Linked DNA regions of Homo sapiens: all the other regions are linked to region 3. The links come from fine-mapping of genetic effects on gene expression. A gene starts in region 3. Each other region holds a variant in brackets. All regions are shown on one strand. Distances are between the middles of the regions.

What was found. PIP is the estimated chance that this variant, and not a neighbour inherited with it, causes the effect.
Region 1: its variant is fine-mapped to the expression of STK31 in minor salivary gland (GTEx, PIP above 0.99).
Region 2: its variant is fine-mapped to the expression of STK31 in whole blood (TOPMed, PIP 0.94).

The regions. Positions count from the first base shown.
Region 1 is chr7:23,677,017-23,687,789 of GRCh38, reverse strand. It overlaps FAM221A (family with sequence similarity 221 member A), which reads right to left and starts at 7,591. Exons shown (of 7, transcript NM_199136.5): 1 at 7,507-7,591; 2 at 3,118-3,291. The coding sequence starts at 7,571. RefSeq lists an enhancer at 6,788-7,037 and a silencer at 7,368-7,657. The variant T/C (reference allele first, on the strand shown) is at 4,111.
Region 2 is chr7:23,790,765-23,801,537 of GRCh38, reverse strand. It overlaps STK31 (serine/threonine kinase 31), which reads right to left. Exons shown (of 24, transcript NM_031414.5): 22 at 10,592-10,714. Among named protein-coding and RNA genes, the nearest start is that of STK31, 86 kb to the right of the region's middle. RefSeq lists a silencer at 6,021-6,221. The variant A/G (reference allele first, on the strand shown) is at 4,607.
Region 3 is chr7:23,707,906-23,715,394 of GRCh38, reverse strand. STK31 (serine/threonine kinase 31) reads right to left here and starts at 5,176. Exons shown (of 24, transcript NM_031414.5): 1 at 5,060-5,176; 2 at 3,250-3,296; 3 at 3,109-3,161. The coding sequence starts at 5,109.

The sequences.
Region 1 (10,773 bases), 29 kb after region 3:
TGCCTGTAGTCCCAGCTACTCGGGAGGCTGAGGCAGGAGAATCCCTTGAACCCAGGAGGCAGAGGTTGCAGTGAGCTGAGATGGCACCACTGTACTCCAGCCTGGGCAACAGGCGAGGCTCTGTCTCAAAAAAAAAAAAAAAAAAAAGAGTGTTACAAAAGAACAAATTCTATTTAATAATGTTTCAAGAAACTTGAAAAGGTCCATTCTTTGAACCAGAAATTTCATTTTTGGAAAATATACCCTAAGAAAATAATTCCATATATAGAAAAAGCTTTATGCATACCAATAATATTAGCAATAGTACTTACATCAGCTACATTATACACACACCCACACGACATAAGAGAACCAGTAAGTAAATTACTAGACAACAGTTTTCAAACATTTTAGCAGTGAAACCCTTTTGTCAAATAAAATCTTTTATAGAACCAGAATACATAAAACAAATGCAGAATTGGTTAAAGCGAAAGGAAGAACAGAATAGAGTTTCCCCTTCTAACCTGCCCTTCCACCTGGCACACCCCCAAGGCTCCCTCACAGCTCCGGAGAACACAGATAAACACCACTGGACTAGCTGGACTAGCTGGCAGGTATTAAAAATCTTGTTTTTGATCAGCACATAACAATGTGGAAACATATTTCTATGATTCTGTCATTAAAAAGTGGCTCAGTATTTTATGCACACACATACTTCACAACAGTTAAATGGCACAGTGGCTCATGCCTGTAATCCCAGCACTGTGGGAGGCCAAGGCAGGTGGATCACCTGAGGCTGGGAGTTCGAGCCCAGCCTGACCAACATGGAGAAATCCCGTCTCTGCTAAAAATACAAAATTAGCAGGGCATGGTGGTGCATGCCTGTAATCCCAGCTACTCAGGAGGCTGAGGCAGGAGAATCGCTTGAACCCACGAGGCAGAGGTTGTAGTGAGCTGAGGTCGCGCCACTGCACTCCAGCCTGGGCAACAAGAGTGAAACTCCGTCTCAAAAAAAAAAGAAAAAGTCATACAGATATTGTAAAAAAAAAAAACTAGCAGCTGGCTTTGGGTAGTGAGCTGCTTCTATATATTGTATATAGAATATATTCTATGTTTCTATATATCCCCCATTTTCCTTGATAATCATATACCACTTTAATAGTGGGGTGAAAAAGTTTGGAAGAAATCTCACTGAGTGGATCAGTACTAAATATAATAACTTCTCCATCAAAGTTGAGTTGGGTCAGCTGAGCATGGTGGCGCACACGTGTAATCTGAGTACTTTGGAAAGCCCGAGGTAGACAGATAACTTAAGCCCAGGAGTTCCAGACCAGTCTGGGTAACAAAGCCAAACCACTTCTCTACAAAAAAATACAAAAATTAGCTGGATGTGGTGGCAGACGCCTGTGGTCCCAGCTACTTGGGAGGCTGAGGTCGAAGGATCGCTTGAGCCCAGGAGGTCGAGGCTGCAATGAGCCAAGATCGTGCCACTGCACTCCAACCTGAGTGACAGAGTAAGACCCTGTCTCAAAAAAAAAAAAAAGTTGAGTTGGATCAATTCTGACGTTCAAGTCCATGCTGTATAAGTTATACAGAGATTAGAAAGTGGCACTAAATTTGTGTAAGAATAAATTATAAAACTATCACAAACTTACCAAACCCCTCTTTAATTCTGAAAGATATCAACACATCCCTTATCCTCCATTCCTCCTCAGTGTTTTTAGTTGGAGTTGCTAAATAAATTTATAATCAATCTATATACAACATTACTCATCCTAGCAACTGCCTAACAAACTTTGGCAAACTGCAACTCTGTAAATAGCAACTATACAAAGAGTCTCTGTGAAAGAGCCCCAGAAATTGCTATCAGAATAGGGTGGTTCCTCTTGGAACCGAAAGTTAAAGTTGCTGCCTGAAAACATGGAACAGGTTCAGAGACTTTTCTGTGAAGCAGCTTAGGTATTCTGAACTTTATTTACAACTGTGAGACGGTAGCAAAATTTAAAGTAGAGCATACACACAGCAAAACGCAAACTTCAGATACAGACAACTCAAGCCAAAAACTGAAGCCTCACTTATTTCCTTTCCTTTAGGCACTTTTCTTGGAACATGACCATTTGTAATGCAAAGCAGTGTGCTTGTTTGTTTAAAGAAAGGTATCGACACAGCAGATCCTTAAGGTATAAAAGGCAATTAGTAAATTTGAGGAGAAATGTTTATACTTATAGATGGACAGCATGATCAGTGTGGGTCAATTCAAGCAACGCTTAAAGTAGTTCCTCAATCTGATGACCCATTCTCTACTTTCTCCAATGATGTGAGATGTAGGTAGACTGCTCCCCAGTCAAACTGAAAGACCCCTGGCAAAGCCACAGGGCCACCAAACATTTTTACCAATGGCAAGAGAACTGCTTAAGGTGACAGACTCCATGATGAGCACTAATAAGATATGATGGAAAATTTTTAATTATAGCTTTAAAAACCTTTAGATAATTTTTGTGGGGTTTTGTTTTGTTTTGTTTTGTTTTGTTTTGTTTTGTTTTGTTTTGTTTTGCTTTGTTTTGAGACAGAGTCTCACACTGCCACTCAGGCTGGTGTGCAGTGGCGTGATCTCAGCTCACTGCAACCTCACCTCCCAGGTTCAAGCGATTCTCCTGCCTCAGCCTCCCAAGTAGCTAGGATTACAGGCGTGTGCCACCACGCCCGGCTAATTTTTTGTATTTTTAGTAGAGACAGGGTTTCACTATGTTGGCCAGACTGGTCTCAAACTCCTGACCTCGTGATCCACCCACCTCGGCCTCCCAAAGTGCTGGAATTACAGGCGTCAGCCACTGAGCTCGGCCAATTTTTGTTTTTTAAGAGACAAGGTTTCACTCTCTGTCACCCAGGCTTGAATGCAGTTGCACAATCATAGCTCACTGCAGACTAAACTCCTGGGCTCAAGCAGTCCTCCGGCCTCGGCCTCCCAAAGTTCTGGGATAACACAGATGTGAGCCACCATCCCCAGCTGATAATTTCTACTCTACTATATAAAGGACAATTGTTAAATGTTTCTCAATCATTACGATTTGTAGAAGTAAGATATGCTTAGCTTTTTATTTTCTAATTATCAAAAAACTTTGCAATAAAGTATCTTACCTATGTGTACAAAAACACAGTGTCTCTGGGCCCACAAGTTTACAATCCATCCCTGTTGGTGACCGCCAGCTCACAAATAATCTGTTTTGTAAGCGCAGAGGTAAAACTTTTCTTTTGTATTCTTCATATTCTTCAGGAGTAAAAAGTTTCCCTCCATCATCCTCACCAACAATTCTACAACAAAAATATATATTTCTCTTAAGCTTTGAGTATTTATTTTCTGGGTGAGCTATGACCAGGCCACTGCAAATATTAAATAAATTTGTAAGCTTTTATTTTGTAAATCTGTCTTTTCTTACAGATGTGGCAGGCCGGGTCTCTGTAACAACTGTTTCAGCACTGACTGAGTGGTTAAGTTAAATATTAAAAGCTAATAGAACCAGGGTCCTTATACAAAGGCTGGAATGTAACAAAAGCCCACCGAGCGTTTGCCCAGGCCTTTCCTGGGCCTCGAAGCATGACAACATAACGAAGGAATTCTTAAAGGACCCGTTTGGGACTAAACAAGTTTTACTGGGGGTCTGAAGAAACTCCCCAGACCTCCACAAACAAGTTTACTGGGGGTCTGAAGGAACTCCCCAAACCTCCATGATTCAGCAGGAGACAAGACCAGAGTAATCACCCCAGCACCTGGACCCATTTAGATTAACTAAATTTACTGAGGCTCCAGAGGAAGGTCTTCAGGACTCAGATCTTAGTTATAGATTAGAAGTTAATCATTTATGTCTTTAGATAAATGCACACTTACACATAAACATATATATACTTATAAACATATGTAATTTTGAATTGGTCTGGCGATATCTTCCAGGCCTTCTCCCTATAACCAGTTACAGAAATAATCTCCCTTCTTTCCCAGTTCATCTGAATCACATTACTGGGCCACGAGAATAGGCAGCCCAACTATCGGTTTGATCCAGAAACATAGGTGTCTCAGCCATGAACCTAGTGATGGGTGAGAAAAGAAATCTTTTCTCCCCTCCACTTCCTATA[T/C]AAGAGGGTTATAAATAGGAAAGACAATGAATTCATAATGCAACTTTACTGATCCAGGTTTATCAACAGAGGATTACCACATATTCGTCTCAGCTTTTCCTTTGATATTGAAGCAAAGATGTTCATTCCTCTCATTAAAGGTAGAGCCTTAACTGCTCAAAATTCTAACATTTACCTCCTTTGAAAATGTATCCCAAAAGAGTACAAAAAACATCAAAGCAGAAGCCAACATGACTAATTTCCATACCTGTCTCCAAACCCTGGCCAGGGGTTTAAACTAATGCGGAACCTAAATACACACTTGGCTCAGCACAAGCTCCAACCACATCTGTGTGTTAGGTAATCAAGTTTATCATGGGTTAATTTCAGAAGTAAGAACCCAAAATATTATGGGAAAACATAAAGCCCCCACTATTTCTATGAAAAGAAATTAAGAGTTGGCCTCCCTGGAGGAAAAGAAAGCACGACTAAAAGAAGTTTTTCCAAAACTGAAGACATTTCTCCCTGAAAATACTCCCCTTGAAAAGTCACAAAAAGTGATGTTTGTGGAATGCTACATACTTTTTTGTGCAATACATGCTTTTTTCCATACTTTGAAGCCTTTAGCTGCGGTAGAAAATAAAAACCATTGCTCTATGTACTTGCCATTAGAAAAAAAGAAAAACCAATTTATAAGCTATGAAATAATCAAAACCGCCTTCTTTACATAAACAATCTAGATACATAATAGTAAAGAAACAAAGGGCATTTAATTCTGAGATAAATTTTGGGCCATTTCATTTTCTTGTAGCTATCAAGAATACCAACAGGTATTAAGATCTTAAGATAAATACGGATCTTTAAAAGATCTTTTAAAAGTAAGATGTCATTGGTATTTAAGTTCTAGACCAGTGCAACTCAAATTTTATTGTACTTACAGAATCCCCAGGGGATCTTGCTCAAATGCAGATTAAGACTCACAGCACAGTGGCTCATGCCTGTAATCCCAGGACTTTGGGAGGCGGAAGCAGGAGGATCACTTGAGGTCAGGAGTTCGAGCCCAGCCTGGCCAATATAGCAAAACCCTGTCTCTACCAATAATACAAAAATTAGTATTTTGGTGGGCACCTATAATCCCAACTACTCTGGAAACTGAGGCACTGAGAATCACTTCCACGGAGGCAGAGGTTACAGTGAGCTGAGATAGCGCCACTGCACTCCAGCCTGGGCAGCAGAGCAAGACTCTATCTAAAAAAAAAAATAATAATAATAATAATAATAATAATAAATATATATATACATACACACACACACACACACACACACACATGATAAAGCCAGATGTGGTGGCTCACACCTGTAATACCAGCACTTTGGGAGGCTGAGGTGGGAGGATTGCTTGAGGCCAGGATCTCAAGATGAGCCTGGGCATCCTAGTGAGATCCCATCTCTACAAAAAATTTTAAAATTAGCTGGGTGCGGAGATGCATGCCTGTAGTCCTAGCTAGTTAGGAGGCTGAGAAGAGAGAGTCGCTTCAGCTCAGGAGGTCAAGGTTGCAGTCAGCCATTATAGTGCCACTGCACTCCAGCCTGGGTGACAGAGCGAGACTCTAAATAATAATAATAATAATAGGTCTGCAGTGGGCCTGAGATTCTGCTTTTCTAACAAGCTAACAGGTGATGCCAGGACACTGGTCAGGGCCTCCCACAGTGTGAGTAACAAGGCTGCATGCTTCCCCTCCCAACCGACTCCCACCGAAGTACCTAGGCAAGAGCAAATCCAGGAAAACTCTTCGGAAGGAAAGTTTGTTTCCTTCTAAACTCATATTTTGACTCATCTTCCCACCCCACCTTCCCAGCCCACCTTTTCATATCTAGGTACTCAAGTCCTGTTTTCCCCACTTTTCTAAAATTCTGACGTCAGTAAAGGACCTGATAATCTCTTTCAGAGGGAAGTGTTGCAAGTTATTTACGATTGCAAAAATAATTTCCCAGCCGGGCGCGGTGGCCCAGGCCTGTAATCCCAACACTTTAGGAGGCCGAGGCAGGTGGATAGCTTGAGTCCAGGAGTTCAAGACCAGCCTGGGCAACGTGGTGAAATCCCGTCTCTACAGAAAATACAAAAATTAGCTGGCCGCCTGTAGTCCCAGCTACTCGGGAGGCTGAGGCAGGAGAATCACTTGAACCCAGGAAGCGGAGATTGCGGTGAGCCGAGATCGCGCCACTGCACTCCAGCCTGGGAAAGAGTCAGACCCCGTCTCAATAAAATAAATAACTAAATAATTTCTCAATAAAATAAATAACTACATACATAGGTCTGCCCTAACATGTTCGGAGCTAGGCAAGAGTCAACTGGAGGCCCACAATTCACATATCTAAATATCCAAGTTATCAGTCAACACCAGCTCCAGCAACTTGCTCCCAGGCAAAAGCTCTGGAGAACTGGAGGCTAAAGGAGCCGGCTCTGCTCTGGGAGAGGACGGGATGGTGGTTGTTCTGACCCTGAACCGGGCGTGGGAACTGACCCCATCAAGCTCCTAGCCCTTATTCTTCTGGCTCAGAATATCCAGGCAGTTCTAAGGGTTACCCAAAACTACACAAACAGGGCAGTCAGAGCAGGGGAGAACAGTCAGCTGGGGGGCCGTCTGCGCGCACACCTCTGGGTCATCTGGGCCACCCACGATGCCGCAGAGGAGCCCCTGTCGCTCGCTCCGGCCTCCCTGGCGGAGCCTGGAGCGTCTCCCCTCCGCTTGTACACACACATCCTCCCGCCCCAACTCCGCGTCCTCAGGCGGTCCTCTCCAGGACTTCCCATCCGCCCAGATTCCGGACGATCAAAAACCCCAGGAAGCGGAAAAAGAGCGCGTCGCTGCAGGTGCACCAGCCTCGGTCAGGATCCAGGACAATGAACCGCGTCCTCAGGCCAAAGGAGCGACTCCGTTTCCAGTTTCGGAAGGGGTTTCTCCAGAATACCAAACACCAGTCGGTGCCTTTCTCCTAAAACCAGCACCTCGGGGTGGGGAGCGCGTTCAGAAGTTCACGGTTGACTCAATTACTGGGTTAATTTGATGTATGCTAACTTCTATAGCCCCGAGTACTCGATGTGCCTGTTTTCAATGGCCATTTAAAAAACAGCTGGACCTCTGTATCAATCTAGAGTTAGTCATCCTTCTTGGAAGGGAGCAGAGGGGCCTCTTAAATGTTATTGGAAGACTCATCACTGCATAGAACCGCGTGGCCCTACAATATTTAATTAGGCAAAGACTAAACTGGAATTCATCTAGGCCTCCCCCAACAGCCCAGGCACAGATTCCGGGAACCCCCGCGGACGCCCGCCGGGCCCCTGCTCGCGCCCCCAGCCCAGGGATCCTGGCCCCTCGGAGCGGCGGGGGGGCAGGCCCGGAGCCACAGCCTCACCTCCGGTACTCCAGGTACTCGTCCACCGCCGCCGCGCCGCCGAGAGGCAACGTCAACCGCTCCATTGCCGGTGGGGAAGCCAAAGGCTTCCCTGCGGACCAGCTGACCTCGAAGCCCGACCCGCCCCGTTCCCTCCCGGTACCGCGCCCCCTCCCGCCCGCCTCCTGATTGGCCCGGCCTGAAGCCCGAGGAGGCCGCGCGCGGCAACTGCGCAGGACGCGCGCCCCTACTGGCTGCCGGCGCCAGGCACCAGAACCCGGATCTCCGCAAGCGCAGCCTCGCGCCACATGGAGTGCAGTTTGCCGCCCTCCACAAACCTTGCACCTATTCCCCTCTCCCTTCCCTGGACCGGCGAGTCTTCTTGTAAATTAACAAGTGACAAGGGAGTGCAGTGCCTTGCATATAACAGGCGCATAGAAAATGGCTTATTTCTTTGTACAGCTCTTTTCGCTTAATCCATCTCTTGAAATATAAGTAGTTTTGAGAAGGTTCTGCTTTAGTTTGAGGCCTGCCTCTCCTTAACTGTCGGCCTGTTTCCAGTATTGGCGTTTTCAAAAACTCTGATGTAACAATCAGTAGTCCTGGGTATCTGGGTTCACTTTGGGGGTTGCTAAAGCTACATGTTCTTCAAAGGAACCGAATAACTGATTTAAGGTGAAGCAAGTAAAAACAATTTAGGTGAAGTTTTGTTGTTGTTTTTTAACTTTTGGAAACACTCTGCAAAATATATTTAGAAGCTGAATTACCATGCGATTGGTAATTTGGCCATAATTTGACTTAGCACGTTGTGGAAAAGAATAGGAAATCTTCAGGCGAAGTCATTAAACTCTGAAGCTCCCAGGGGATCAGCTTTAGCGCCCTCTGTAAAGTATCTGGGAGGGAGAATATGCAAACAATAAGAAAAATAATTAAACTTCAGTACAGTACTTTAGTTTCAAAGTACTGTTCTACATATTTCAGGTCCATAAAACATTATGTAAACAAATTGTTTGGGTACCACCCACCTCCCTTCTCGGTACCCTTTCAACAAACCCCACCCTCTCCCCAAAGTCTTCCTCCTGTTCAGAGGCGTTCTTGACAGTCAGATAAATGAGTGATCCTGAAATCGGATTCATATTTTAGGAAACTGATCTCAGCTCAGTATTCTCTCCTATCACACGTGTGGTTTGCTGCTGTCCATTTTACCTCTTCCACCCGACACCTCCCAGATGGGGTCTTGCTCCGTCTCCAAGGCTGGAGTGCAGTGGCGGGATCTCGACTCACTGCAATCTCTGCCTCCTAGGTTCAAGCAATTCTCCTGCCTCAGCCTCCTGAGTAGCTGGGATTACAGGCACTAGCCACCACGCCTGGCTTTTGTGTGTGTGTGTGTGTGTGTATTTTTAGTAGAGACAGGGTTTCACCATGTTGGCCAGGCTGGTCTTGATCTCCTGACCTCGTGATTTGCCCGCCTCAGCCTCCCAAAGTGCTGGGATTACAGGCGTGAGCCACCACGCCCAGCCCCATTCTACCTCTATGAGAGCCTAGTCTTGCTTTTAGGCAGCAACTGAACTAACAAAGAAAAATAGAAGAAAATGCCAGGCTCTGCAGGCTTACAGAAAAGTGGCAGGGGAATGTCTGTGTAGGCAAGTACAATTTAAAAATCTAGAGGGAAATGGTTAAAATAGATTTAGCCCAATTGTGGACTCTTCCAGGAAGATGCTGGAGCAGTAAACTCTTCTGGCCAAAGAAGTCAACAAAAATATTGAGCGTGACGAATAAGAGTATGGAACAAACTAGAAAATGTTATCCTGACCTTACATAAAGCTGACAGATTTGCAAATTAAAATACTGTATATGGTACTCACCTCTGCTTTAATAAAAAGGTATAATCAAACTATAACTTCCTCCCAATGTGTAGCTAAATTGATCTAGGAAGTAGGGTGGACAGAGGAACATGTAAATTGCCTAGGCAAGTGTTAGGCATTTTATTTATTCAATCCTCATGAAAGTTTATGAGATAGGATTTGCCAGCATTTTGCTGTGATGTATAGGTTAAGAATGCTTTCTTCTGAAAATAACAGAATAATTCAACTAACAGTGGCTTAATTAAACATAAATTTTATTTTTTATTGCTTTAAAGAAGAGTGGGGGTAGGTAGTTGCTCACATTGGTTTAGAGCATTTTCCTCATGGTTGCAAGAGCTGTTACAACTCCAGAAATCATACCCAAATTCAAGAAAGGAAAAAGGAGGGCCACCAACATCATTTGTTTCTTTTATCAAAGAGTTTTCCTAGAGGCCTCTGCAAAAAAATTTTCATTTATGTCTCACATGGCCACACCTTGGTATAGAGAAAACTGGGAAAGCCAATCCAGTACTTAGTTTTCCAGGCTCTATGATGGCAATTGTCAAGGAGAGGGTTAGAAATGTGTGTTGGGGCAGGGCACGGTGGCTCATGTCTGTAATCCCAGCACTTTGGGAGGCCAAGGCAGGTGGGTCACCTGAGGTCAGGAGTACATGACCAGCCTGGCCAACATGGTGAAACACCATCTCCACTAAAAATACAAAAATTAGCCAGGTGTGGTGGCTCATGCCTGTAATTCCCGCTACTGGGGTGGCTGAGGCAGGAGAATTGCTTGAACCCAGGAGGCAGAGGTTCCAGTGAGCTGAGATGGCGCCATTGCACTCCAGCCTGGGTGATAAGAGTGAAACTCCATCTCAAAAAAAAGAAAAAAAGAAATGTGTGTTGGGTTAAAAATGTGTTTAGTTCACCAAGAAACATGGTTGGTGACAGCTTATCCTTAAACTGATTAATATCCATGCATGCCCTTCTTCCCATGCAGGCATTGCACACTAAAGGCATTCATCAGACCTCTAAGTAAGGCAGTCCCAAAATCTCAACCAGCTACTGCACCCAGCTTAAAGTCTAAGTCTCTGCAATCTTCTCTCAGTCATTCTTAATCCTGATCAGCCTGATTCTTATTGTCTTAATGGTTTGACAGTTGATAGCTACAAGACAAGAAAGATAATTATTCAGTATGTATCTCCAACAGATAACTTGTTTTTTCGTTTTTTGTTTTTTGGGTTTTTTTTTTTTTTGAGATGGAGTCTCGCTCTGTCACCAGGCTGGAGTGCAGTGGCATGATCTCAGCTCACTGCAGACTCCACCTCCTGAGTTCAAGCGATTCTCCTGCCTCAGCCTCCTGAGTAGCTGGGACTACAGACGCGCACCACCACGCCCAGCTAATTTTTGTATTTTTGGCAGAGACGGGGTTTCACCATGTCGGCCA
Region 2 (10,773 bases), 85 kb before region 3:
AAACCCTTTTCTCTGCAAAAGACACTGAAAAGAAAATAAAAAGAAAAGCTACAGGCCAGAAAAAAATCATTGCAAATGACATCTGATAAAGGACTTCTATCTAGAATGTATTTATGAATGCCCAAAACTCTACAGCAATAAAACAAAAATCCAATTAAAAAACAGGCAAAAGACAGACACTTCACCAAAGAAAATACAGAAAGCCAATAATAAACAAACTAAAAGATGCTCAACATCATTATCTATTAGAGAAATTAAAACCACAATGAAACACTACCACACACCTATGAGAATGGCTAAAATAGAAGATAATAACAATACGAGGTGCCGACAATGATGCTGAACTGAAACTTTCATAAATTGCAGGTGAAAATCAAAAACAGTACAGCCACTCTGGAAAACAGTTTGGCAGGTCCTTAAAGAATAATACATACGATTACAATCTGACCCAGAAATTTCACTCCTGGGTAATTACCATAGAGAAACAAAAACTTACGTTCACATAAAAACCTATACACACATGTTCACAGTAGCTTTATCTGCAATAGTCAGACACTGGAAACAATGCAAATGTTCTGCAACAGGTGAACAAACAAATTTGGTATGTACATACAACAGAGCACTATTCAGAAACAAAAAAGGGAAAAACTACATTAGACAACTTGAATGAATCACAAAAGATGATTCACATGCTGAATGAAAGAAGCTAGACTCACAAAATTATATACTGTATGATACCACTAATATGATATTATTTTTATTTATATTTTTTTCTATTTTTTCTTTTTTTTATATACTTTAAGTTCTGGGATACACGTGAAGAACGTGCAGGCTTGCTACATAGGTATACATGTGCCATGGTGGTTTGCTGCACCCATCAAACCATAATCTACATTAGGTATTTCTCCTAATGCTATCCCTCCCCTAGACCCCCACTCCCCAACAGGCCCCACTGTGTGATGTTCCCCTCCCTGTGTCCATATGTTCTCATTGTTCAACTTATGAGTGAGAACATGTTCACTTATGAGTGAGAACATGAGGTATTTGGTTTTCTGTTCCTGTGTTAGTTTGCTGAGAATGATGGCTTCCACCTTCACCCATGTCCCTGCAAAGGATATGAACTCATCATTTTTTTAAGGGTGCACAGTATTGCATGGTGTATATGTGCCACATTTTCTTTATCCAGTCTATCACTGATGGGTATTTGGGTTGGTTCCAAGTCTTTGCTATTGTGAACAATGCTGCAATAAACTTAAGTGTGCATGTCTTTATAGTACAATGATTTATAATCCTTTGGGTATATACCCAGTAATGCGATTGCTGGGTCAAATGGTATTTCTGGTTCTAGATGCCTGAGGAATCGCTACACTATTTTCCATAATGGCCGAACTAATTTACACTCCCACCAACAATGTAAAGCGTTCCTATTTCTCCACATCCTCTCCAGCATCTGTTGTTTCCTGACTTTTCAAAGAGTGCCATTCTAAGTGGCATGAGATGGTATCTCATCGTGGTTTTGATTTACATTTCTCTAATGACCAGTGATGATGAGCTTTTTTCATATGCTTGTTGGCCACATAAATGTCTTCTTTTGAGAAGTGTCGGTTTATATCCTTTGCCCACTTTTTGATGGGGTTGTTTTCTTTTTGTAAATGTGTTTCAGTTCTTTGTAGATTATGGATACTAGACCTTTGTCAGATGGGTAGATTGCAAAAATTTTCTCCCATTCTGTAGGTTACCTGTTCACTCTGATGTGTTCACTTCTGCTGTGCAGAAGCTCTTTAGTTTAATTAGATCCCATTTGTCAATTTTGGCATTTGTTGCCAGTGCTTTTGGTGTTTTAGTCATGAAGTCTTTGCCCATGCCTATGTCCTAAATGGTATTACCTAGGTTTTCTTCTAGGGCTTTTATGGTTTTAGGTCTTAAGTCTTTAATGCATCTTGAGTTAACTTTTGTATACGGTGTAAGGAAGGGGTCCAGTTTCAGTTTTCTGCATATGGCTAGCCAGTTTTCCCAACACCATTTATTAAATAGGGAATCCTTTCCCCATTGCTTGCTTCTGTCAGGTTTGTCAAAGATCAGATGGTTGTAGATACTTCTGAGGCATTACTTCTGTGGCCTCTGTTTTGTTCCATTGGTCTATATATCTATTTTGGTACCGGTACCATGCTATTTTGGTTACTGTAGCCTTGTACTATAGTTTGAAGTCAGGTAGCATGATGCCTCCAGCTTTGTTCTTTCTGCTTAGGATTGTCTTGGCTATACGGGCTTTTTGGTTCCACATGAAATTTAAAGTAGTTTTTTCTAATTCTGTGAAGAAAGTTAATGGTGGCTTGATGGGGATAGCACTGAATCTACATATTACTTTGAGTAGTATGGCCCTTTTCATGATACTGATTCTCCCTATCCATGAGCATGGAATTTGTTTTCCATTTTTTTGTGTCCTCTCTTATTTCCTTGAGCAGTGGTTTGTAATTCTTCTTGAAGAGGTCCTTCACATCCCTTGCTAGCTGTATTCCTAAGTATCTTACTCTCTTTGTAGCAATTGTGAATGGGAGTTCACTCATGATTTGGCTCTTTGTCTGTTACGGGTGTATAAGAATGTTTGTGAGTTTTGCACACTGATTTTGTATCCTGAGACTTTGCTGAAGTTGCTTATCAGCTTAAGGAGATTTTGGGCTGAGATGATGGGATTTTCTAAATATACAATCATGTCATCTGCACACAGACAGACTTTGACTGTCTCTCTTCCTATTTGAATACCCTTTCTTTCTCTTGCCTGATTGCCCTGATCAGAACTTGCAATAGTATGTTAAATAGGAGTGGTGAGAGAGGGCATCCCTGTCTTGTGCCAGTTTTCAAGGGAATGCTTCCAGTTTTTGCCCATTCAGTAAGATATTAGCTGTGGGTGTGTCATGAATACCTTTTATTATTTTGAAATACATTCCATCAATACCTAGTTTATTGAGAGTTTTTAGCATGAAGGGTGTTGAATTTTATCAAAGGCTTTTTCTTGCATCTATTGAGGTAATCATGTGGTTTTTGTTTTTGGTTCTGTTTATGTGATGCATTATGTTTACTGATTTGCATATGTTGAACCAGCCTTGCATCCCAGGGATGAAGCTGACTTGATTGTTGTGGATAAGCTTTTTGATGTGCTGCTGAATTCAGTTTGCCAGTATTTTATTGAGGATTTTTGCATCAATGTTCATCAGGGATATTGGCCTGAAATTTTCTTTTTTTGTTGTGTCTCTGGCACGTTTTGGTACCAGGATGATGCCGGCCTCATAAAATGAGTTAGGGAGGATTCCCTCTTTTTCTACTGTTTGGAACAGTTTCAGAAAGAATGGTACTAGCTCCTCTTTGTACCTCTGGTGGAATTCGACTGTGTATCTGTCTGGTCCTGGACTTTTTTTGGTTGGTAGGCTATTAATAACTGCCTCAATTTCAGAACTTATTGTTGGTCTATTCAGGGATTCGACTTCTTGCTGATTTAGTCTTGGGAGGGTGTATGTGTCCAGGAATTTTTCCATTTCTTCTAGATTTTCTAGTTGATTTGCATAGAGGTGTTTATTGCATTCTGTGACGGTAGCTTGGATTTCTGTGGGATCAGTGGTGATTTCTGCTTTATCATTTTTTATTGTGTCTATTTGATTCTTCTTTATTAGTCTGGCTAGTGGTCTATCTATTTTGTTAATCTTTTCAAGAAACCAGCTCCTGGATTCATTGATTTTTTGAAGGGTTTTTCATGTCTCCAGCTCCTGCAGTTCTGCCCTGATCTTAATTATTTCTTGTCTTCTACTAGCTTTTGAATTTGTTTGTTCTTGCTTCTGTAGATCTTTTAATTGTGATGTTAGGGTGTCGATTTTAGATCTTTCCCGCTTTCTCCTGTGGGCATTTAGTGCTATAAATTTCCCTCTAAACACTGCTTTAGCTGTGTCCCAGAGATTCTGGTACATTGTGTCTTTGTTCTCATTGGTTTCAAAGAACTTATTTATTTCTGCCTTAATTTTGTTAATTACCCAGTAGTCATTCAGGAGCAGGTTGTTCAGTTTCCATGTAGTTGTGCAGTTTTGAGTTAGTTTCTTAATCCTGAGTTCTAATTTGATTGCACTGTGGTCTGAGAGACCATTAAGATTTCCATTCTTTTGCATTTGCTGAGGAGTGTTTTACTTCCAATAATGTGGTCAATTTCTGAATAAGTGTTATGTGGTGCTGAAAAGAATGTATACGCTGTTGATTTGGGGTGGAGAGTTCTGTAGGTGTCTATTAGGTCCACTTGGTCCAGAGCTAAGTTCAAGTCCTGAATATCCTTGTTAATTTTCTGTCTCGTTGATCTGTCTAATATTGACGGTGGGGTGTTAAAGTCTCCCACTATTATTGTGTGGGAGTCTAAGTCTCTTTGTAGGTCTCTAAGATCTTGCTTTATGAATCTTGGTGCTCTTGTATTGGGTGCATATAATATTTAGGATAGTTAGCTCTTCTTGTTGCGTTGATCCCTTTTCCATTATGTAATGCCCTTCTTACACTTTCTTGATCTTTGTTGGTTAAAATTCTGTTTTATCAGAGACTAGGATTGCAATCCCTGCTTTTTTTTTTGCTTTCC[A/G]TTATCTTGGTAAATATTCCTCCATCCCTTTATTTTGAGCCTATGTGTGTCTTTGTATGTGAGATGAGTCTCCTGAATACAGCACACTGATGGGTCTTGATTCTTTATCCAATTTGCCAGTCTGTGTCTTTTAATTGGGGCATTTAGCCCATTTACATTTAAGGTTCATATTGCTATGTGTGAGACATTCTTAAAAGCACAAAACACAGTGATAAAAGGTCAGTGGTTGCCAGCGTTTAAGGGTTGGGAGGAGGCTGTGACTACAAAGGGATGGCACACAGGAATTTTCAGGGTTATGGAACTGTTCTGCATCCTGGCTGTGGCAGTGGTTATTACACTAATCTATAGGTGTGTTAAAATTCATAGAATGTATACAAAAAAAAGTCCATTGTACAAGTTAATCTAAAAATAAAGTTTTTAAAGGACTTAATCAACAATACATAAGAGTAGAAAATCAGACAATATATTTACTCATGGAGCTTTTTACTATCATTTAAAGGAAATAGGTGGAATAAAAACTGCTATTACCACACTTATGGGATATCTTATGAGTCCTCCCAGAAACAAAAAAAAAAACTTGATATGTTTACTTTCACCCTTCTGATATAAAGAATAGATTACTGAAGCATTGATGAAAATCATGCTAGTTTATTTCCATGAGGGTGCTGGTTCAATGAAACCAGACAACTTTAAATATACATGCAGGCATAGGGCTAAAGTCATGAGAACAGTATGGGGGAACCACCCCGTAATTCAAATATCTCCACCTGGGCCTGCCCTTGACACACAGGAATTATTAAAATTCAAGGTGAGATTTGGGTGGGGACACAGCTAAACCATTATCATTCCACCCCAGGCCCCTTCCAAATCTCATGTCTTCACATTTCAAAAACAATCATGCCTTCTCAACAGTCCCCCAAAGTTTTAACTCATTTAAGCATTAAGTCAAAAGTCCACAGTCCAAAGTCTCATCTGAAATAAGGCAAGTTCCTTCTGCCTATGAGCCTGTAAAATCAACAGCAAGTTAGTTACTTCCTTGATACAATGGGGTACAGGCATTGGGTAAATACACCTGTTCCAAATGGGAGAAATTGGCCAAAACAAAGGGGCTACAGGCCTCATGCAAATTCAAAATCCAGCAGGGCAGTCAAATCTTAAAGCTCCAAAATGATCTCCTTTGACTCCATGTCTCACATCCAGGTCACACTGATGCAAGAGTGGGCTCCCACAGCCTTGGGCAGCTCTGCCCCAGTGGCTTTGCAGGCTACAGCCCCGCTTCTGGCTGCTTTCATGGGCTGGCATTGAGTGTCTGTTGCCTCTCCAGGCACACAGTGTGATCTGTCAGTGGATCTACCATTCTGGGGTCTGGAGGACTGTGGCCCTCTTCTCACAGCTCTACTAGGCAGTACACCAGTTGGGGCTCTGTGTGGGAGCCCCAACCCCTCATTTCCGTTTTGCACTGTCTTAGCAGAGTATCTTCATAAGGGCTCCACCCCTGCAGAAAACTTCTGCCTGGACATCCAGGCATTTCCATACATCCTCTGAAATCTAGGTGGAAGTTCCCAAACCACCATTCTTGACTTCTGTGCACCTTCAGGCTCAAACCACATGGAAGCTAACAAGGCTTGGGGCTTGCACCCTCTAAAGCCATGGCCTGAGCTGTACCTTGGCCCCTTTTAGCCATGACTGGAGCAGGTGGGACACAGGGCACCATGTCTGAAGGCTGCACACAGCAGGGGGACCGTGGGCCCAGCCCATGAAACCATTTTTTCCTCCTAGGCCTCTGTGCCTGTGATGGGAAGGGCTGCTGCGAAGCTTTCTGACATGCCCTGGAGATACTTTCCCCATTGTCCTAGCGATTAACATTCAGCTACTTGTTACTTATGCAAATTCCTGCAGCTGGCTTGAGTTTCTCCCAGGAAACGGGTTTTCTTTTCTACCACATCATCAGGCTCCAAATTTTCCTAACTTTTATGCTCTGCTTCCCTTTTAAACATAAGTTCCAATTCCAAACCATATCTTTGTGATTACACAAAACAATGCTTTTAAAAGCACCCAAGTCACCTCTTGAACACTTTGCTGCTTAGAAATTTCTTCCACCAGATGCTCTAAATCATCTCTCTCAAGCTCAAAGTTTCACCAATCTCTAGGACAGGGGCAAAATGCCACCAATCTCTTTGCTAAAACATCAAGAGTCGCGTTTATTCTAGTTCCAACAAGTCCCTCATCTCCAGGTGAGACCACCTCAACCTGGACTTCACTGGCCATATCACTATCAGCATTTTGCTCAAAGCCATTCAACAAGTCTCTAGGAAGTTCCAAACTTTCCCACATCTTCCTGTCCTCTTCTGAGCCCTCCAACCTCTGCCCATGACGCAGTTCCAAAGCTGCTTCCACATTTTCGGGTATCTTTACAGCAGCATTCCACTCTCTGTACCAATTTACTGTACTGGTCCCTTCTCACACCACTAATAAAAGACATCCCCAAGACTGGGTAATTTATAAAGGAAAGAGGTTTAATTGACTCACAGTTCAGCATGACTGGGGATTCCTCAGGAAACTTACAATCATGGCAGAAGGGGAAGTAAACACATTCTTCTTCACATGGGGGCAGCAAGAAGTGCCAAGCAAAAGGGAAAATGCCCCTTATGAAATCATCAGATCTTGTGAGACTTACTTCCACAAGAACTGCATGGGGGAAACTACCCCCATGATTCAATTATCTCCACCTGACCCCACCCTTGAAACATGGGGATTACAATTCAATGTGAGATTTGGGTGGAGACACAGCCAAACCTTATCATCTGGCTTCTTTCTCTTGGCAGAATTATTTTAAGACTCACCTATCTTACTGAGTTATATTTATAGTTCAATCGTTTTATTCCTGAGTAGTATTCCAATGGATAGACACATACATAGCAGACTGTTTTTCCATTCATCTGTTGATGGACTTTGAGTTGTTTCTAGTTTTCATCTATTACACATAAATTCTTTCAATATTTACATACAAATCTTTGTGTGGACATATGCTTTCATTTCTCTTGGCTAAATATCTAGAAGTGGAATTGCTGGGTCATAGGGTAGGAATATGTTCAACCTTTTAACAAACTGCCAAATGTTTTTCAAAGTGGTTGTTCCCTTTACATTCCCCTGGGCAATATATATGAGTTCTAGGTACAACAGATCTAAGCAACCGTTGGTACGATCTTTTTAATTTTATACATTATAGTGAGTAGTATAGTGGTATCTCATTTTGGTTTTAATCTGTAGTTCCCTAATGACAAATGGTGTTCAGAGCATCTTTCACATGCTTACATGCCATGTGGACACCTTCTTTGGTAAAGTACCTGTTCAAATATTTTGCCCATTTCTTAACTGGGCAGTCTTCTTAGTATTGATTGTAGGAGCTCTTGATAATCTGGATATAATATTTTTGTCAGATATATGTTTTGCAAATATTTTCTCCTAGTCTGTAGCTTGCCTTTCATTTTTGTGACAATGTCTTTAGAAGAGCAAGGTTTTCCATTTTGATGAAATCCAAATGATTTTTTTCTTTTAGAGTTGATGTTTTCTGTGTCCTACTTAAGAAATCTTTGCCAAATCGAAAGTCAAATATTTCATCCTATGTTTTCTTCTATAAGTTTTAGACTCACGTTTTACATTTAGGTCTGATACACATTTTGAGCTAATTTTTGTGCATGGTATAAGAAATGAATCAAAATTTATTCTCTACATATGGTATGAGTTGGCCTGTATCATTTTTGTTGAAGATTCTCCTTTTACCCAGAGAACTGCCTTGGCATCTTTGTCAAAAGCCAGTTATCATACATGTGCAGTCTATTTATATTGTCTCTATTCTGCTCCATTCATCTGGACATCTAACTTCACAGCAGTATCACTTGTGTTTTTAGAAACAGGGTCCTGCTCTGTAGCCTAGGCTGGAGTGCAGTGGAGCAGTCATAGCTTACTGTAGCCTTAAACTCCTGGACTCCAACAATCTTTCTGTCTCAGCCTACCAAGGAGCTAGAACCACAGACACGCCATTACACCCAGCTAATTTCTATTTTTTGTAGAGACAGGGGGTGCTCACTTGTGTTGCCTAGGCTAGTCTTCAACTCCTGGCATTAAGCAATCCTCCTGCATCAGCCTCCCTAAGTGCTGGGATTACAGTTTTGAACCACCACTCTAGGCCTACATTGTCTTAATTTCCTAGAATCTATTAAGTCATAAAATCAGGTAGTTTGGGTCCTTCAATTTTGTTCTTTTTCAAACTTGTTTTGGCTATCTCAGATCCTCTCCATTTTTATATTAATTGTAAAATCTAATTGTCAATTTCTGAAAAAATAAGCAAAATCTACCAGCAATTTTGTTGAAATTGCATCGAATCTATAAGCCAAGAACAACTGATATCCATACAATGTCTTCTAGTCCATGAGCATGGTGTATCGCTCCATTTATTTATGTCTTCTTGAGTTTCTCTGAACAATGCTTTGTAGTTTTAATAGTGTGCAACTCTTGCACATCTTTTACTAAATTTACCCCTACAAATTCCATATTTTAATACTTTTGTAAATGATTTTTAAATTTTAATTTCCTATTATTTGTTGCTTATATAAAAACACAATTATATTGAAATTAAAACTGCTATCTTTCTAAACTCATTTGTTCTAGTAGCTTTTATGTACATTCTCAAAGATTTTCTACATAATTAAGCATGTCATCTGCAAATAAAGACAGCTTTATTTCTTCATTTTCAAACTCTATGACTTTTATTTCTTTTTTTGACCTTATTACACTGATTGGAACAGAGATCAGCAAACTATATGGCCTCTGCACCAAACTGATTCCACTACTTGTTTTTGTACAGCTGCAAGCCAAGGGTAGTTTTCACATTTTTAAATGTTTAATAGCAAACTGAAGGAATACTATTTCATGCACATGCATACTACATGAAATTCAAATTTCAATATCCATAAATAAAGTACTACTGGAAAAGAGCCACACTGATTTGTTTACATACTGTCTATGGCTGCTTTCATGCTATAGCAGCAGAACTCAGTACTTGCAACAGAGACCATCTGGTCCTTTACAGAAAATGCTTGCTGGCCCCTGGGCTGATAAGAATAGTCTTCCTTCTCTTAATACTTAATCCCTCTTAACTCTTGTTTTTCTAACAAGGAGATTATTTTTATTTATGTGATCAACAAAGATAAGGTTTTGTCACACTCAAGACTTTGGAAAAAGAGGCATTCTCTACGTAAAATAGCAGTACAACATGAAACAAGCTTTTTATTTTTTTGTCTTCCAACTTTTATTTTAGGTTCAAGGGGTACATGTGCAGGTTTGTTACATGGGTAAACAGTGTGTCATGGGAGTTTGGTGTACAGATAATTTTGTCACCCAGGTAATCAGCCTAATACCTAACAGGTAGTTTTTCAATCCTTACCTTTCTCCCAACCTCCACCCTCAAGTAGACCCCAGTGTCCCTTCTTTGTGTCCATATGTACTCAGTGTTTAGCTCCCACTTATAAGTGAGAACATGCAGTATTTGGCTTTCTGATCCACAGTAAATTCGCTTAGGATAATGGTCTCCAGCTCCATCCAACTTCTTAATTCTTAAACTATGGATGAGAAACAGCTATTTGGTCTACACTGGAAGCAGGAATATACCCAAGGCTTATTTAACATTTATTTTCCATATATGCATGAACTGCTTTCAGATTAATGTAGGACAAAATCATCTTCACTGTTAATCTTGACTTCAACAGAACCAAGACAATAGCATGATACCTAAAATATACATCAAGCCAATTTGTAGAAAGTACACAATAGGTAATAGGAAGCATATCAATAGTTTTTGTTAAAACTTAAAGTTCTACTAAAAGTCTGCTGCTTTTTATTTTTAAGGAGAATCACTATAAAATCATCACTTTATATACTGAAATATATATATATATGATCTATTTCAACAAAAAAATAACATACCCATAATAAGAGGCAGCCATAAGCATATAAGTCTGAACCTGGAGAAGCAGGTTTTCCCATTTTCAACTCAGGTGACATCAAACTCAAGTCACCAACCATCATGTTCACCGAGGCTCGCTGACTCTGCAAAAACAATATTTTACATATTTCAGATACAACACAGTTGAGGTGACTTTCTGTGA
Region 3 (7,489 bases):
CCTCTCACATAGGTCTCCCAAAGTGTTGGGATTACAGGCATGAGCCACCATGCCTGACCAGAAGCTTGTTCTTTCAAAGAAACAGGTGGAGTCAAATACGTCAGATTCCTTCAGCTGCCACTCATCCAATCTGAAGTGTTTGCTTATAAGTGGTTTATAAGGCAGAAGCCCACAGGGCAAAAAAAAATGGAGAATACACGTGAGCAGATTTTCATCCTAATCTGCCTACGCGTATTTCCAAATCTCTAGTCTTCTCTATGCCTATATCCCACCATAACCCCAACCAAATTTGCCAATTTGCTTATTGAAATAACCACTACATTCATTTATATACCATTAGTAGTTTTAATGTTTAATCTTTTCATGCGCATGTTTCCTGTTTTAAACGTTCTTCTACAAGAGCCTCAACTTCATGGTTTAACTCAGAGGTTGGCAAATTACAGCCGCCTGTTTTAGTAAATAAAGTTTACTGCATCACAGCTACACACACTCATTCACATTATGTCTATGGCTGCTTTGCACTATGTTGGCAGAATTGAATAGCTGCAAAACAAACTGTATGGCCTAAAAATGGTAAAATACTCATCATCTGATCCTTTACAAAAAAAAAACTGCTGACTCTTGAATTTGCTCCAAATTCAATCAACATATTCACAAATAAAGTAAACTGAAATCAAAGTCTAGAGCTGCACTAGTGAATACAATAGCCAATACCCACTTGAAATATGGCTAGTCTAAGGAGATATGCTGTAAGTCTAATATACACACTGGATTTCAAAGACAATATTAAAAAGGAAATATAAACTATCCTGTTCACATTTTTATGCTAATTATATTTTGAAACAATATTTTGGATATATTGAGTTAAATAAAATGTACTTATTAAAATGTCACCTGCTATTTTTAGTTTCTTCAATGTGGCTGCCAAAAATGTTTTAAAATTACTTACATGGCTCATATATTTCTACTAGACAGCACTAGTCTAGAAAATCTTTTTACACTGATAAATGATGTTTCTGTATAATAAGCTTAAATATAATTTATCATCCACCCTGGGACACTGTTGAGAGTGATGCAGTTGTCACTAATACAGAGACAATGGGCATGGAACCAGAACGTGTGAGCAACCTTTAGAGAATATGCATAAGCAGAAACAAATTTGCCAAATATATGTGCATAAGCAGACACACGAATTTGCCCCAAGTTTTCTATAACATCACCCTTCTACAATTTTTTTTTACATGCAGCCATGCCCCACATAGTGACATTGTGGTCAAAGAATGAACCACACACACTACAGTAGTCCCGTAAGATTATAATGAAGCTGAAAAATTCCTATTGCCTAGTGTAGTCCTAGCCATTGTAACATCATAGAACAATGCATTACTCACATATTTGTGGTGATGCTGGTGTAAACCTACCGTGCCCCAGTCTCACAAAAGCACAGCACATACAATTATGTACAGTACATAATACTTGGTAATGAAAATAACTATGTCACTGGTGTGTGTGTATATATATATTTTTTTTTACTATAATTTTTCTTATTTTAGTGTACTCCTACTTATTTAAAAAAGTTAACTGTACAGCCGCCTCAAGTCCTTCTGAAGGTATTCCAAAAGGGCATTTTTATTACAGAAGATGACAGCTCCATGCACATTACTGACCCTGAAGACCTTCTAGTAGGACAAGAAGCGGAAGTGAAAGACAGTGATATTGAAGATCTTGTCTTCGTTTTTAACCAAAAAGTTTTTAAAGTAAAAAAAAATTAAAAGTTTAAAAAGAGAAGAAAGCTTTAGAATAAGGACGTAAAGAATATTTTTGCACAGCTCTACAATGTTTGTTTTAAGCTGTGTTACTACAAATGAGTCAAAAGTTTATTAAAAGTTACAGTAAGCTAAGGTTTATTGAAGAAAAATATTTTTATAAATTTAGTGTAGCCTAAGTGTATGGTATTTATAAAGTATACAGTAGTGTACAGTAATGTCCCAGGACTTCACATTCCTCACTACTCACTCAATGACTCACCCAAAGCAATTTCTAATCCTGCAAGCTCCATTCATGGTGAGTGCCCTATACAGGTGTACCACTTTTTAATCTTTTATAATATGTTTTTACTGTACCTTCATGTTTAGATACATAAAGACTTAATATTGTGTTACAATTGTCTGCAGCATTCAGTACAGTAACATGAGGTACAGGTACACCACATGGCCTAGGTATGTGGTAGGCTATATCATCCAGGTTTCTCTAAGTACATTCTATGATGTTCATACAGCGACGCAGTTGCCTAATGATGCATTTCTCTGTATGTATCCCAGTCATTAAGTGATGCATGACTATATATTTAAGAACTCTGGGTTAATCATATTCTTCTAGAACTTTCTTCTCATATATTCTCCTTATTTCCCACATTACGAGTTCACCTCACCCCCCACCAAAAGGAGTTCCCATGCTGTAGGGAGTATAGAGAAACGTAATTTCTTTCCCTTCCGTATCATGTATAGTTTACAAAACCAAAAATTAGCAGGTCGTTCTGTGCATCAGAGGAATTTACCTTCTTAAATTGTGGAACACAGCCCTTCAGTGCTTGCTTTGTATTTAAAACTGAGTAACCTTACCTAACTGACACCCTCCCAACAGAAAATCAGAAATGTTTCATTCATGCTTCCAATTCTATAATGAGAAAAATACCACATCTCAAATTTAAGCCATTAGAAAAAACGACCGAGATTTTTAACTTATCCTCCTTCAAGAAACAATCTTATAAAAGACCCCTAGATGGGGCTATAACTTCACAAATACAACAGGCTCTCAGAATCCAGCAAAAGCAGCCTAGAATTGAGTGGAATTCTGAAATCACAATCTTGCCAATTTTCTTTTTTCAAACTTGGTGTATTATGGGCATAACACTTGACTCATAATGAGTCAAGTAACATCACAGCTGTCAACATTTGTCTCCTAATAATGCCTGGTGATAAATAATTCAATAAATATTAGGCAATGAGAATGACAAATGTATTTATTCCTGGGTTTTATTTTTGTTTTTGTTGGGGAGGAACTGGATTGGGGGAGGTGAGGGGGGATATCAACCAGTTTGCTATTTACCTGGGCCCAAAATGTTACTGCATCTTCTATGTGACTTCCAACCACATCTTCCACTAAAATCAAATCACAATACAAGGAAAATTAGAAATTAATCAGTATCATCTAGCTCTTACACCCCAAAATAATTTTTAGTGTCAGTACCTTTATCGTAATGTGTATCTTCATCCATTTGAACAATTCCTGAAAAACTAGAACAATACCTTAAATTAGATTACAATAATCCACCATTAATAATGAATGAAGACTAAACTACATCATGTTCAATTCTTACAAATGTTTTGTCCTAAATGCAGTTATCAAAATTCAAACTCTATATTAAAAATGAGCTCAATATTTCCTTCACTAACTAATTCTTTTGAGTATTTTGTAGTAGATGCAATTTTATCATATATAATCTCTATCCTTAAAATTATCTCTAGCCAAACTTTTACAAACTTATACTGAACTCATATACATTTTGATCACTTACATAAATCAATACTTTGAAACAATGTACATATTCTTTTTTTAGAAAATATCCTCCCATAAAAAGGACTTCCACAATGTAAACAAAGAGAAACATTACAAGTAATAGAACAAATGCTTTAAACTGGTAGTCTATTTTATGTAAAAGGCACGGTGGTTACTATTTTTGAAGATTCCGTGGGATTAAAGACTGCAAAAATACCTAAAATTTTGCCTATTACTTCAAAAATAATTTTAATTACATAATATTATACTTTATCAAATGCAAAAATATTCCAAAATAAATGTACACTATGTAATTTTATCTGTAATATACTAAAATACTGCACTTTCCATTCATAAGTGTTGAAGGAAAATTAAAACACAGATTTTTTATGGGTTTTTTTTTTTTTCCCCCCAAACGAAGTCTTGCTCTGTCGCTCAGGCTGGAGATCTTAGCTCACTGCAACCTCCACCCCCCGGGTTCAAGCAATTCTCCTGCCTCACCCTCCCAAGTAGCTGAGATTACCGGCGCGTGACACCACGTCCAGCTAATTTTTGTATTTTTAGTAGAGACGGGGTTTCACCATGTTGGCCAGGCTGGTCTTGAACTCCTGACCTTGTGATTTGCCCACCTCGGCCTCTCAAAGTGCCGGGATTACAGGCCTAAGCCACCGCAATTTTTTAAGAGCTTTAAAAGTTGTCTAGGAACACCACTATACTAAAGTTTCAAATGCTCTCTCATTATGAAAAGGAAAACATTAACTCCTCATCACAGAAAAATAAAATTTTAAAAATGGATTACTTTGTCACAACTTAATTTTTTAAAAAAATTTTTCGTAAGTGGCATGAAAATGTCTCCAAAGCAAGGGTTCTTTTCTACTGGTCAAAAAGCAGTTTTTAAATTCAACTGACTGAAAAGCTGTAATAACTTTTAGGGAGACTATATATTCCCACGGAAAGCATTAAGGCTTAAATTCAGTAAAAGTTAAAATTACTTTGGAAATCTCTCCACACACTCCAAGAAGCTACTTCTAGAGTAGTTTTTAAATCTTATTTTAAAATGACTTGCCCTGATTATGAAGGCACTGATGCCGTACCCACTTTCTGCAAACAGAGATCACAAAATAGTACGTCCAAATCTCCACTTCGTGATGAAAATTTGGAAGAAACGGGTACACGTAGCTCTCTGACACTTATTTTATAAGGGATTTTGAAACTTAAATGGCACAGAATTTTCGAGAAGGGGAAGAGAGTGTGGAGGCTGCGTGACCGCGTCTTCATGGAGATCATTCAGGCCGGAGGTCTTTTCGAGCCACTTTCGCCTGCCTGCATGCACTCAAAAACTGGGGCATCTGGCACCCCTCTGGGGTGGCGGGCGGCTAGAAGGTGACAGAAAACCCTGAAATGGGCCTCGTCCCAGGATTGGAGACTTAAAACGCAAGCAGCGACGAAAATAGTCCTTGAAGCGGCCACCACTGCACGTACCACAAAAACTACTACTGACCTCACACTTTCCGTTGCGGAAGCTCTAGAAGAGTGACCCTGGACCCACATACTGGACTTTCGGCCCTCCGCCCGCCGTAGCACACGTGCAGCGGCTTACCGCGTGAGCTTCGACCGCAAGGGCCCCACACTGCGCCTGCGTGCACAGCGCTGCGCCATCATCCGGTGTTAGCGGGAGTCACGTGGCAGCCACGGCCTGCCGCCTAGGAAGAAGCGTGCGGGAGCCGCCTGACGCTGGCTGCTGCCGACCCCCAGGCACTGAGGCTGCGCCCTGGTGATTTATAGGCCGGGGTGGGGTCTAGGGCCAGTTCCTTTCGCAAGGCTTCAAGCTGTGACTTTAGAGGTGACGTAGGATTTCGTGGTCTTTCCTAATCTGTTCACGTGGATTTAAATTTTAGAAACACCCAAATTAGAAGAACCCCGACATTCTATTTACACGATGGAAGAGAGAAAATAACTTTGGTAACTGAAAATGTGTTTTTCAGATTGGTAGCTTTACAAGCGTTGGTCAACTAATCCTTAGATTCCACAGCTCTCTGTAGTATTACAACTTTTTCCACAATCTTAAGAAGAAAAAATTAGTTGTCTGCTTCTTTGCAGATATTACACTTTGTGGCAAACCTTACACAACAATTGAAAATTATCTCCGGTTAATTTTTAACAGCTTGAAGGTTAAAGTACAATAAACTGCAGATATCAAAAGTGCATAATTTGTTAAGGGTGAACATATGTATACACTGTTGAAATCACCTCCACAATTAAGATAAACTTTTCCATCACCTCAAAGTTTCCTCATGCCCGGTTGTAATACCTGACTCCTCCCAGCTCCCGTTCTGCTTTCTGTCACCATATATTAGTTTGCATTTTCTAGAATTTTACGATAATAGAATCATACAGTATGAACATTTAATCTAGCTTCTTTCCAATAGCATAATTATTTTGATTGATAAATTTCGTCCTATGTGTCAAGAGTTTGTTGGGTTTTATTGCTGTTACTATTCCACTGCATGAATATAACACAATTTGTTTATCTACCTTTTAATAGGTGTTTGGACTGCTTCCAGTTTTGAATTGTTTCAAATAAAGCTGCTATTGTGTGCAAGTCTTTGTATGGACATATGTTTTCATATCTCATGGGTTAGTACCTAGGAGTGGAATGGCCAAGTCATAGAATTGTATATGTGCTTAAAAAATTGCCGCATAGTTTTACACAGTTGTACTATTTTATATTCCCACCAGCGGGTTTCAGAGTTCTAGTTGCTCTATATCCTCACCATCATTTGATATGGTTTGTGTTTTTAAGTTTAAACATTCATGTATAAATGTTTAAAGTGGTATCTCCTTGTGATTTTAATTTGCATTTATTTCTCTACTAACTAAAAATGTTGAGAAACTTTTCTTATGTTTATTTTCCATCCAGATCTTCCTAAATGAGGTGTCCAAGCTTTTTCCTGTTTTCTAACTGAATTTATTATTGAGTTTTGACAGTTCTTTATATACTGTGGATAAAACTCCTTCAGGTTTGAAAATATTTTCTCCCAGTCTACAGCTGTCTTTTTGTTTTCTAAAAAGGGTACTTCAAAGAACAAAAGTTTTTAATTTCAATAAAGTCTAATTTATCGGTTTTGTCTTATGGTTCATGCTTTTGTGTTGTATGTAAGGAATCTCCGACTAGCCTGGTTCACAAAAGTTTTCTTCTATATTTTCTTCCAGAAATTTTACATGTTCAAGCTTTACATTTTGATATATAGTCCTTTTTGAGTTTATTTTTATAACATGTGAAACAATCAAATTTTATTTTATTGCATATGGATATCTAATTTTTCCAGCATCATTTGTTTAAAACACTGTCATTTGTCTATTGAATTGTCTTTGCACTATTGTCAGAGATCAATTAACCATACATACGCAAGTCTATTTCTGGATTCTCTGTTCTGTTACACTGATCTATTTGCTTTCTTTAGACTAATACCACACTGTCTTAATTACGGTAGTTTTATTTCATGCGATCGTAGAAGCAATTTGTCAGCATCTACACACACACACACACACACACACACACACACAGAGCCTGCTGTGATTTTGATTGGGATCACATTGAATGTATACACCAATTTGAGGAGAATGGACATCTTAGCTATATTGAGTCTTCTGATCCATGAGCACAGTATATTTATTTAGGTCTTATTTTATCTCGCTGAGTGATGTTTTATGCTTTTCATTATAAAAGTTTTACTTTTGTCTGATTTATCCCTAAGAATTTCATTTTTCATGCCGTTGTAAATTGTATTATTTTCTTAATTTCAACTTGTTTGTTTTGTTGCTAGTATATAGAAATATAACTTTAGTATATTGTGTATTATTTCTGTGATAGTTTTTTTGTGGGTGGGTGTGTGTGTGTAAGACAGGGTCTCGCTCTGTCACCCAGATG